Linked DNA regions of Homo sapiens. The protein of the gene in region 1 interacts with the protein of each later gene in a biochemical or structural test. Each region holds a gene or a part of one and is shown on either strand. Other genes may lie near its edges. The genes, in order: GDF11 and ACVR2B.

What was found.
Region 2: the proteins of GDF11 (region 1) and ACVR2B interact in a biophysical measurement, tested with the Homo sapiens proteins (one study listed by IntAct).

The regions. Positions count from the first base shown.
Region 1 is NC_000012.12:55,752,976-55,757,908, reverse strand, and holds the end of GDF11 (growth/differentiation factor 11 preproprotein), read right to left. Parts: 3' UTR 645-4,933; downstream 1-644. Other genes in the region: SARNP (SAP domain-containing ribonucleoprotein), read left to right, coding at 356-397. UniProt on the Homo sapiens protein: Secreted signal that acts globally to regulate anterior/posterior axial patterning during development. May play critical roles in patterning both mesodermal and neural tissues. It is required for proper vertebral patterning and orofacial development.
Region 2 is NC_000003.12:38,484,807-38,492,096, reverse strand, and holds part of ACVR2B (activin receptor type-2B precursor), read right to left. Parts: 3' UTR 1-7,290. UniProt on the Homo sapiens protein: Transmembrane serine/threonine kinase activin type-2 receptor forming an activin receptor complex with activin type-1 serine/threonine kinase receptors (ACVR1, ACVR1B or ACVR1c).

The DNA.
Region 1 (4,933 bases):
TTCCCAGCCTGTTAAGAGCCCATTGTTTCCAGGCTAGCTTGATCTCAGGCTGAGTGGCTCTCTTTGCTTCAGGAATCTTCCCATTTTCTACCACTGTTCTTCTCTCTGTCCCTCACCCCCAGTAATCTTCTTTACTCCTCACCCTCCTTACCCATTAAACTTTCCAGCTCCTACTGGATAACTGGAAGGATTGGAGAGATTCAGGAATGAAATCTCTAGCTACCAAGCTCAAGTCTGGGCCATCCTTCCTTCTCGGGCCTTGTGACAGTTCATGTGAGTTTGGATTAAAGCAGCCAGGAACCCAGGCAACTATTGTCTTCAGTCTAATTTTTTTCTTCTTGCTTCTTCTTTACAGGCAAAGAAGAGGAAAAGAGCAGAGCGCTTTGGGATTGCCTGATGAAAAGTTCCTGATACTTTCTGTTCTCCAGTGTTTTCCATTTCTCTCCTTCTTCTTGGTCACATATATGCCTAAATGCACAGTCATGTGCCTACGTCCTGCCTCGCAATGAGGGAGCATGTACCCCAGGTACATCCATGAACTGCGGCAGCAGTTTGACTTATTGCTGTTTCAGCTTTAAGGTTGTTGTGTTTTTGTTTTTGATTATGTTGCTTGTTAATAAAAAAAAATAGAAAAGAGAACAATGTGTTTTATTAGGTGCTCCTTTGATTTATTGGAGCTAGATTAGACCAGATAAGGGGAGCTTCAGGGGCAAATATTATAGAGAATTGGCCATAATACCTTTATCCCTTAGAAGAGAAGACAAGGAAAAGGACTGAGTTTACCCTTTAAGCCTGTTTATTCCCTTCTGTCATACTCACAAGCATTTTTTATCCTCTGTGAAGAGGTTAAGTTACCCACCCACCAAGTCTTTGCTCCAGCAGCTTGTAGTGACCCACTGAAATAAAACAGAACATGGGAGGTTTTAGGTGTTGCAAAGGATATAAATACAAGGGCAGTGATTAGTAGCCTTCTGTTATTAGCTAATAATGCAGACTTTTTCTTGGATAAAATGGAGTCCAGGGTCCCACATTAAAGGAAAAGGGCCCTGATTTCAAGGGTGATGTGATACGATACTATGTTGGTCAGTCAGTTCAGGAAGGGAGATGGGCTGGATATCCCTCAGAGACAGAAGAAATTTTGTATGCAGAATCAAAGCATGACAGAGGATGTCAGAGCTGTTACGCATTGTTAGCTAAATCATTGGGAACATAAGCAGTGGAACTGGAGGCTTCAAGTTCATGTAGATCTGAAACCTGCTTAATCTTTTTGGATATGTTATTGCAGAATTTCTCCTCTTAATCTTTATATAAGCTCGGTTTTTGTTTGAGCTATTTTTGGTAATAAGACTTAGGAGCCTGACACCTTACCTGAAGACTTTGGTACTATGATCAGGTCCCATGTTGCTGTGGTGTAATCCTTTATCCTTATTTCTACTAAAACCTGCCTGGTTTTGTGCTTAATGAAATGGTAATAGTTTGATCACCTTTCTAATGTCAAGATATCTCTTTATTTCTCCAAAGTCTCTGGTTGGTGAGGAAAGCAGGGACCTAAAGTTTAGATAATTTAGAAAAATTGTGCCTTGGAGAGCAGATCCAAAAACTGCTGCCCATTTGTTGTGAAGTTTGCCCCATTCTGAGACTTTGGAGAAGTGAACAAAAGGGAATGCTGGTTAAATTTTTGACACCTCTTCAACCAAATAAACCTTAAAATTGGAATGACCTTCCCTTTTCCCTCTTTTCTGTCTGCCTTCCTTTTCTTTACCTCAGGCTCTGATCTTGGGGCTAGCTTTTCCTCTCTCTACTCTGCCTTCATCTGAAAACAGAATAGATCTGATTTGTAACTTGAGAGATTATAGATTCACTAATGGTTTCTTCCTGAATATGGTTTTAAAAAGAGAAAAATACATGAGGGAATAGAGCAGATGCTGATTATGAAGTGGAACAGTGGATCTTTTGGAAGTTTTCTTCGTCTCTTTATCCTCTATAACCTTCCAGAAAGATATTCAGCCTTACTTGCCAGGATTCTCTTCTTGAAGCCTAATTATTCTCCTCACTCATCTTACTTCCCCTAGATCTTTGAACAGTGTTTTCCAATTTGTGAGGATTTTTTTTTTTTTCTTATTAACCTCTTTCATCCCATTTCAGCAGCTGTTCCTATGTTGGTCAGAAGTCTCTAACCTCCAAGCCAGATGAAGTCCTCCCCTTCCTATCTCATTATAGTCATTCTCCACATACTCTTTGAGCATGAATAGTTCAGGATGCCTTTTTCCCAATTCAGTTTTAAAATAGTAATTCCGTTTGGAGATGGAACAGACATTGAGGCTTGTAATTGTTTACCTGAGATCTTAGTACCCTTCCTTCCTCTCCCCGTTTCCCTACTATAGTTGATCCAGCATCCAGATGTGGTTAACTGATTCCAATTCCTGAAGCTGTGACATTCTCTGCATACCTGGAAGCTCTTAATGAGGGAGTCTATAAAAGCTGTGGGGAGAACTAGCTTCCTCAGCTGTAAATCTGTACTTTTTTATGGTTCTCTAGGATTATTCTTTTTTTCCACTCTCACTCTAAACTGCCCAGCCCCCCACCCCACCTCTTAAGAACTGCTGAAGATAGAGGCTAGAAGCTTCTGTGAGGATGAGGGCTATAGGAAGGAAGGTGTGAATAAGGGCAGGACTTCTTGGTGTTGAGCTGAGTTCTCTTGCTGTGTCTGATATGAGGAGTGAGGGAGGAACTTAAGGGAGGATAACTTTTTTGCTGTTCTCTTATATGAGGGCCTCTGGCAATGCCACTTATTTCTGATTATTGGAATCCCCCCAAAATTTAACCTCCCCTTCTCTTGCCATATCTAGACTTTTCTTGTTTTTCCCTTCCAAAGGGATTTAAAATTACAGGTTTCACATCTTTCCAGATTCTTTGAGTCCAAGGTGTCCCTAACTTTCTTGTTATCTCTTTCCCTTATGTTATTCCTGTATTTAGGTTTCTACCTCCCGGATCACTTTCAATAGGATAGATTAGAATGTAATATTGTTTAGCAACTACTTAGGTTTAATTTCTTATTCTACCACACTAGCTCTGAGACCCTGCGCAGATAATCATTCTCTTTTCAGACTGTACCAAAAGGAACCCCATTGTGAAGGTTGCTGTGTGAATTAAGTGATATTCTCATATCATGTATTCACACTACAATTTGCTTACCATAATTTGCATAGTAATTATTCAATAAATATTAGCTTTTACTGGGTGATCAGGGTACTGTGGAAATACATATTTCTTTCCCTGAGTAGGTTCTAGCTAGGTATGAGTGCCCTAGTTTGAACATGTTTGTGTGTGCATACACCCAGTTAATGCAGTCGTATTTTGAGAAAAAGAAAAGGCAGAAAGAGTCCCATTCACTCCCTCAAGCCCAGCTCACTGGCAGGAAAGCTGGACATTGTTGCTTTGGAGCATTGATTTTCCTGCTTCTACGCCACTACAGACCAGAAGCTGTAGATGCCACTGCCTGCTGATTCTTAGCTTGGGGCCCCTGCCATTTAAAATATAGGCAAGGTCAGAGTATAGGATAGCTTCCCATGCCTTCGGTTGGAGGATGTTTTAGGATAAAGAAAAGACTTGTAAAAAGTCATCTTGAGTAGTCTTTTTTTGGGTGTTCTCTCAATATAGGAAACAAATGAGCCACAGGGAGAGAAAACCCATTTTCAGCTCAGGCCAAAGTTAGGGGTAGATGTGGATATGGTTCCCTTGGGAAGATAGAATACATAACACTTCTGCTACTCAACCACTTCCAGCCTTAGTCTTGTAGTTGGTCTCGAGTGGGGTCAGTGTGCTGATAGAACTGATAAGACAGGGAAAACATGGCAGTACATTGAACCCGCAGTAGCGCTGTCCCCAATTCTGGATCAGGTTGATGTCACAGGAGCTTTCCTTATTTTTATTTTACTTTAATTATTTTTAGAGACAGTGTCTTACTGTGTTGCTCAGCTTGGAGTACAGTGGCTATTTACAGGCCCAATTATAGCACACTGCAGCCTTGACCCTCTGGCCTCAAGTGGTCCTCCTGCCACAGCCTCCTGAATAGCTGGAACTACAGGAGCACACCACTGGGTCCTGCTTTCCTTTTTTTTTTTTTTTTTTTTTTTTTGGAGATGGGAGTCTCACTCTGTCACCATGCTAGAGTGCAGTGGTGCGATCTCAGCTCACTGCAACCTCCGCCACCTGGGTTCAAGCGATTCTTCTGCCTCAGCCTTCCATGTAGCTGGGATTACAGGCGCACGCCACCACGCCCGGCTAATTTTGGGTATTTTAGTAGAGATGAGGTTTCACAATGTTGGCCAGCATGGTCTCGAACTCCGGACCTTGCATGATCCGCCCGCCTCGGCCCCCCAAAGTGCTGGGATTACAGATGTAAGCCACTGCGCCCAGCCAGCTTTCCTTATTTTTGAAAAATGTGAGTCAGGCAATATTCTTTTGCCATTCCCAACTCATATTCCTGGGGAATTGTGCTCTAGGTACATGGGAAAAATTTTTACAGTGAACTGAAAGAATATTTGAGATGCTATTTTAGCCACTCTTGTGTAACAAGGCAAGTTCGTTGGCTATGTTGGTTTAGATTTTTGTCAAACTTCGTTGAGGAAACCTAGGAACAGGGACTGCAGGAGAATAGGACACTAGCTGGATCATCTCAAGAGAACCTTTAGATCTTCCATACTAGCTGGATCATCTCAAGAGAACCTTTAGATCTTCCATTCTGTGGAGGCTGGGAGAGGGGTCTTGTTGTCTTTGGGACTGTTTTGGCTCAAGCTTTTCAGAGAGGGGTTGTTCTAGGTACCCCCAGTTTCCTGTCCTCTTTCCATCCTTCCTTGGCCTGCATGTCCCAAACCTTATACCACCATGCCCTTAGTGTTTTCTGTCTTGCTCCAGGACCCCATCTTCTTAG
Region 2 (7,290 bases), on another chromosome or scaffold:
CGTATGTGTTACATGCAGAAAGCTCTTTTCATAAGAATTGACAACAAACTCGATGTAAGTTAAATTTACAGTACTGTATAAAGTTATTCAGATTCAAGGACAAATGTGGAAAAATATTAACAGGTGAAAAACTTGGCCTTTGACACTACCATTAAGATCATGTCCAGTTCATAAGCAGATTTTTGTACAGTTGAAAAATGGCATTGTTGTGGATTTGTGGTGTGGAACTGAAATCTAGAAATATATTTCTACTCTGCGGTAACCCTCTCCCTCAATTCTGAAGTACCACTCAACTTTCTCTGCATTTTTACAGAATTACAGAAAAAAAGAGGAAAAAAAAGCCGCTGGCATTTTAACAATTCCTTCCCTCACTGGCAGTCTTAACATTTTCAGATGAGGTCTCCTGAAGAATCTCTAATAATCACTTGCTCCCAGTCGGCCTTTCATGATGACTTGGACACTTTTCAAGTTAAAACTCAGATGTTGCCTAATCTTTTCTACTCTCATCTCTGTCATTGTTGGTAAAATTTGGGTGACTGCATTTTTCCCTTACGGAGAAATTATTTGGCTAAACACACACTTAACTCGTGGCAGTGCTCTGAGAAAACCCCACTCGGGCTAAAGCACTTGCAGGGACTGAAGTCAACAGTCCACTGAATGGGGCAGAGAACAAACACTTAAGATGACTGACTTGGGACCCTCACTGGGAACACACTGACCTTGTGTCCCATGGTCTGCGGAACAGCAGGTCTACAGGACTGCAGGAGAGCCCAGGAAGGTAGCCCATGCTCGTATAGCTGAGTTACCACTTTTAATCTTGGTCTGCCATCTATGCCCCAGAGACAAAAATTCAGATGCGGTGACTGCTGGTTAATTAAACTTTTTGAACTGGTAAAAAAGGCTCTTTAAAAAATATATATATTTATTTAAAATACATCAAAATGACAAACAGCCATATCCCACAAGGCCTAATTTCACAGCAACATATGCTACAGACATCTTCCCAAAATGCACTATGGTGGATAGTGGGTTTTTTATCCTGCCATTTAAAGGAATGTTCTACATTTGAGCATTAGCGACTGGAAATGTGTTACAAAGAGCTTATCTTTGGAACTAATTTGCGTGCAAGACCAGCCAATTAAATCGCTTTGCCTATTCAGACACACAAGAATACTGAAAATGGCAGAATTCAAAGAGGAACACAGGAAGCACCATTCAGATGACACTCTAGACCCATCCCACCACAATGCCATGACGAGCTTGCCAGAAGCCCTTTCTTCAGTCCTTGGGAAGAGTTTTGCTTTAAAACAAGTGCCCACGCTCAGCAGGGTTCCTGCATGTGTACGTTAAAAGTCTGCAGTATCAAGAGGACCCAGATGGCGACACTGTTCAACATGAGGTCTGAGGTAACTGGTTCTTAAAATACCTGGATCACAGAAGTGCATCCAGAAATTAGGGCTGGGAAAAAGGAAAAAGGTAGAGGTTGGGGACTAGAAAAGACAAGTAGAAAAAAGCTTACAGCAGTTGCTTTTGGGGCGAAGAGAGTGATAAAAACAAAGGCACAACAGAATTACATTCCAAGACACGTGGCTGGAGAGCAGAGAAAATGTTCTTTTTATGGGGAACAGATGGGGTTGGTTTCTGGAGTGCTACTAGATCTGCTGGAACTAAATTTATTCCAAGTATAAAAAGGGTAAAGTGTAAACCTATACGCTCAACCAGAATGAATAAAAAGCACAGCTGGTTTAAAATGACACATTAGGGATTCTCTTGATAAAACTATCCCGTCCAGTGCACCTCTGTCTAGAAGCAGCAGCCTGAAGCCAGCGGGCAGGGTCTGGGGGACAGGTCTTCAGCTGGGCCTCAGGACTGGCCATTATGCATACCAGAAATTAACTTAATTATTCATTATATATCGCCACCAAAAGTCCCACACAAATAACCATCCACTCTCTGCCTAAAAATAAATAGGCTAAAATGAAGACCACTTTCCGTATTGTGGCAGTGATGCTGAGCTTCCTCAGAAAAGCAGGAAAACTCTGGAGCTATCTGAAAGATGCTCTGCTGTTACTGGGGTTCTGAGCTTCCTCACTGGGCTCCTGGCTGATTCCACAGATTGAAGCAGCGAGCCAACCCAACCATTCTCACTGACCAGAGAGGACAAAATGTGCCTGGCAGCTCTCCATTTAATTGGATCACTGCATCCACATGCCACCCTCCCCACTTTTCTGAACAATTACTTAACTGGGTAATTCTGCCCCCCAACCTGGATAATGTGATCTTAGATAATTCAGTCTGGTGGATTACTCAAACCACCAGATTCTCATTTCAAAGTTTTTGTACCTGAATCTTATTCGAGTCCCATCCCACCCCAATAGGCACCCCTATACAATTTCTGTTCCCCCAAACACTCTCACATGACTATGTCCTATGGCAAAGGCTTACAAACTAATTTTTGACCTCAGAACCCTTTGTTCAACAGAAATCTCAGGAGGAAGCACCAATGTAAAACACATTGCAGGCCCTCTCTCCTCCCAATCCACAAGAAGCTGAGCTGAATATCACTGTCCTACACAACCACAAGTGGAGTTTTGGCCAAAAAAGACCCGCAAATTGACTCCAGTCTGCCAGTGTATCACAAGAATCCATATAAACACTAAGTAAAAGTTCCACACCACTCATGCTCCAGTGTACGTTTCTCTTGAAAGGTAAAGCTCATTAGCTCTGATTACAAAATCATTCAAATTCACTAACTTTATAAAAATAATCTGTGGTATAAAACAATCTCCACACTGTGTAGAAGAAATCTGTCAAGTGATATAACTAAATATATATGTAGAACTATCGATTTTTTTAAAGTAAAGTTTCAAGTGTTGTGTATCTATTATACAACCTATTCTTTTATTTACAATGCTAACATTCTGACGCAAACATGATTAGGAGAGTCAGGGAATGAGCCCACACTCAACCAACAGAGAAGTTCCCAGGACTCAAGACAGAACTCATGCATTTGCAAGAAGACCCATCCTCACCTGCCTGAAAAACTTGTGGGTCATATTTTTCATAACTGTGAGCTCAAAAATGTAAACTTTGCAAGTGAATGTAATACTCTTCTGTAGATGTCCAGCATAGCCCAGGTTTATATAACCCCTTCCATACACACAAAGAGTGGTGTGTACATTGCTTTAGTGCCCTGTGGTTGGTTTACAGTAGTTCTCAGAATTACCTAGGCCCTAGACAATCCAAAGACACTGCCCTAGAGAAATGAAGGCAGTGCAGGGCCCATCACCACACATTGGCATTTAGAGAATATGTGTTTCAATTACTGAGGAAAAATCACTTCGGTTACCTCTATGAGCTGCCATAGGAGCAAATAAAGTATCACTGGTTTTGGCACTACAGGGGATACAGGAAGTACCACAATCAAAAAGTCATGTTTCATTCATACCTGGAAAATACCATCATGAAAATGTAAAAACTTGGTAATAATTTAAATAATGGTAAATTCTTTAAATTCAAATTCTTTTTTGAACCAAAGTTTACAGTGGACCCAAAATAAACATAAAACATTCAAAATGTCCCACTAGATAATTTGGACTTTTCTTTGTTGGCAGGCCTTTTGGAGCCACCAATTGTTTTAAAAAATGTTACTGGGTCAACCGAATTAATTTTCAAGGGGGTGTTTTTCCTACAAAACTAAATCATTATTTCAAAAATCTTTTCCAATCTTCTAAAGGTTTGGGATACATTCATAGGTAGACTGCTGGTTGCAAATCAACTATCTGGAATCTTACTTAAAGAACTATGCTTATAACCCTGAATTCATTAAACATTTACAAATCTAGACTGAGAAGATATACAGTTCATCAACTGAATTACTGGGCCTGTTTATCTAAAACATTACTGTCAATTGAGATTTAAACTCATCATTACTAGATTGAACATGTTAGCTGCTAAGTATTTCATTAGTTTAGAATTTGCAAACAGCCATTAACTAAAAGAATTCATGTCACCCCAGTGAGAAGGAGAAAAAGACACCTTGTCCCCTTCTCTTTTTGGCTGTTCGCCCAGGATGAAGGGTAGATGACTAGATTCACGGAGCTTCTTAAAAAGGTATGGTCTGATGCCCCTGAAATGGGAATCAGGCGTGGCCATCTCTCCAAAGGTGTGCCATCAAAAACTCAACAGGCTAAAATAACTGAGACTGAAAATTAAACTGAGTTAACTCCTGGAAACTGCTTTCCAATTAGTATATTTTTCTAGTGAAATAAAGTTCTCGAGAATAACTAGCTGTCCAACTTCTAGTACCAATTCTAAAAACTTACATACTTATGCTTACTGTATTATTTTAAAAACCAGCAAATCTTTGTGTTACCAATAGATGCTGGAAACTTTATACTGCATACTAAAAAAGGCAAAATTCTAGTTTCAAGAGGGCCATCCAATACTCCCACTTTAATGGAACAGCCACCTCCCCACCCTCACGGCTCAGAGCACAGGGGCCAAGTGACAGGCTTTCTGAGCCACACACAACACATGAAGGACATTCAATACACAGCTGGGCTTCCTTCCACCAGGGAAAAACCCCACACACAGCCCGAGCACACAAAGCATAGCAGGATGGAGGAAACGAGAATGTGGCCAACTGAAGAGAAAGGTGACAGAGCCCAACTACAGGATGAAGTGCTTTGCTGTCTAAGTTATGTCAAGAGGGTTAGCCTAGCCTCTTAGGGCAATGGAAGAACTATCTCTGTGGCCTGGAGATGAGAGACCCTTCCCTTTGCTAAGAATATGTGAGCAAGAGTCTCTATCCTCCTGAAGATGTTCAAGGCTGAAAAACAACCTCCTTTTTCTGCAGAAACACCCCCAAGTCCGGACATGATGTATTCAGAGTCAGAATCAGCTGGCACGTGTGGGTATGCCCTCCCCAGGCAGGACTGGTCCCACAGGCTCCTCTCCAGAGCAGACAGGACAAGAAGGCCATGCTGGACAACAAAGGCTAATAATGCTCACCATCTTCCCTCACTGCCAGGTGTCACTTTCTCCTAAGCACAGCCCACTTGCAGCCCTTGCCCCTGAGCAACTCATGCAAAGAACTCCTGCTGAGGACCAATGGTCCCAGGAGAAAACCCAGCTTATGCCAGGCCAGGATGTTCTGATGACTATGTCTACAGCCTTCCCCAATGCCCCATCATTGAGGGCCCTCTGCGTGACACTGTAATACAATGGCCTCTGTCCTCACTTGCTTCCTCCTTCTGCTCATTACTGGATTTCTCCAACTAGGGATGACTTCTCAGTTATCATAGATGCTTTCAAAGAAGATTCTTCCCCAAGGCCCATCCCTACAGCCAGGAGCCTGCTTGGATGACAGCACACTAGAAAGGAAGAAGCAAGGATCCTTGGCTACTCTCTGCTAACTTGGTCCCCTCCCACCCTGCATGGAACAGCCCCTCCCATTGACAGGGAAAATGATGCCAGGCCCCATTTTCCCCAGTCTGCCACAGAGCCTGAGGTCAAAAACAAAAAGAAACCAATTATCTGAGCCCACCAAAAGTGCATGTCACATGAAGTCATTATGGAAAAGAGCACAGGCAGAGGCTCTATGACCCAGTAAATTCAAAGCAGGGCTCGAGATGGCTCACTCCTCAAAGAACACATGACAGCAAACAGACAAGCATTTACCCGGGGCAAAAGGCCCATCTGTGCTCCTAGACCCATGCCCTATAAGGAGATCCCCCACCTTCTTCTTGCCATCAGAACCAGATATACCACCTGATGGGTGCACTTTACACCACAGCATGAGGGGAAGAGTGGCCTGAAGCCCAAAGAACTGGCATGGACCACACTCCTCCCCAGCCACACCAAAAAGGTACCATCTCCTGACACACAATCTGATGGCAAGGCCCCACAGGGACACTATAGTGGCTGAGCGTACGGTGGGCCTAACGGGGAGGCCACCCAGAGAAAAGGCACGCAGGCCTGACCTGTCTGTACTGTGTCTTGACCGCAAAGTCCCACACCAGAACCATGGCTCAACCCTCCCTTGGCCAGGTCAAAACTTCTCACAAGAATCAAGCCAGCACACAAAAGAAAAACCACCCAGAGGAACTAAAACCAAACAAAGAGGCTGGGGTTTAGTGTTCAGGTAGTATCATGACCTAACTATTCCTGCAGTAAATTTGCTACATTTGTTAGTCGTTTGTTTCTTCTGAGGATGAAAAGTAAAGATGCCTGCACTGCCTGAGGCGAAAGCTAAAGAAATTAGATATGGCACTTTTCAATAAATATTTTAAAGCTTCTTAAAGAAATAAATGGTAAAGAAAAGCAACTGCTGTAAGGCCTGTTTTGCCATTAAAAATTATTCTAAGGGAAAAAAAATACCACAGCACAAAATCAAACCATTAAAAAAAAAAAAAAAAAAAAAAAAAAAGACAACATAGCTTACCGAAACCCTGTTCCTGTAACCACTTGGCCAGCCCACATTTTGACCCATGAAGCAAAAACTGAGCTCCGAGAGGGAAGCAAATGGGCCTCCCATAGCACCCTGTGCCCCAACACCCAGAGGAAAGGACCCCGGGGCAGTAAGCCCCAGACACTGAACATAGCACACTAGGTAGATGCCCAGGCATGTGCAGTGCCCCTCACACTGTGGACTCCAAGACCAGCAAGGGCAAAACCCTTCACTCCCAGACACGCTGCACTAAAAGACTGGCCTGAGTCACGGTGTGCTTCACAGAGGCGCCACAGATCTCTTCCAACGTTGCTGTTAATTTGCTGAAGAAGTTAAATCCCAAGTAAAATCACCCCATTCAGGTCTAAGGGCCATCCTTCTACCAAGTTTAAGCGGGGTTACTTGTCATTCTGAACACTGACCGATCAAGTTACATGTTACATGTGAATTACATGTGAAGCTCCAAACAACCCAAGAGGAGGCGGCCTCTTCAGTTCTCACCCAGGTCAACCTCTCCCCACGGCCCCCGCCTTGCCTACCCTCACGATGAAGAGATGCACTGTTTTTAAATAAAATGATCTAAAGAAACCAGAAGGAAAAGCCTTCACAAACAAGACTGATAAATGCCCAGACTTGGCCCAGACAGCCAACCTACAGTTGATGACAATTATTTACAAGGGGGCGTTATCAAACAAAAATGGTAGCACTCCCTAGAAGATGCAAACTTTTTTCTTTTTCTCTATTTCTTTTAAACTTCCTTGTCACAAAAGCCAACTTACATTAAAATATACTTACTACAAGACAACACAACTAACAAAATATATAATAAACCTTACATA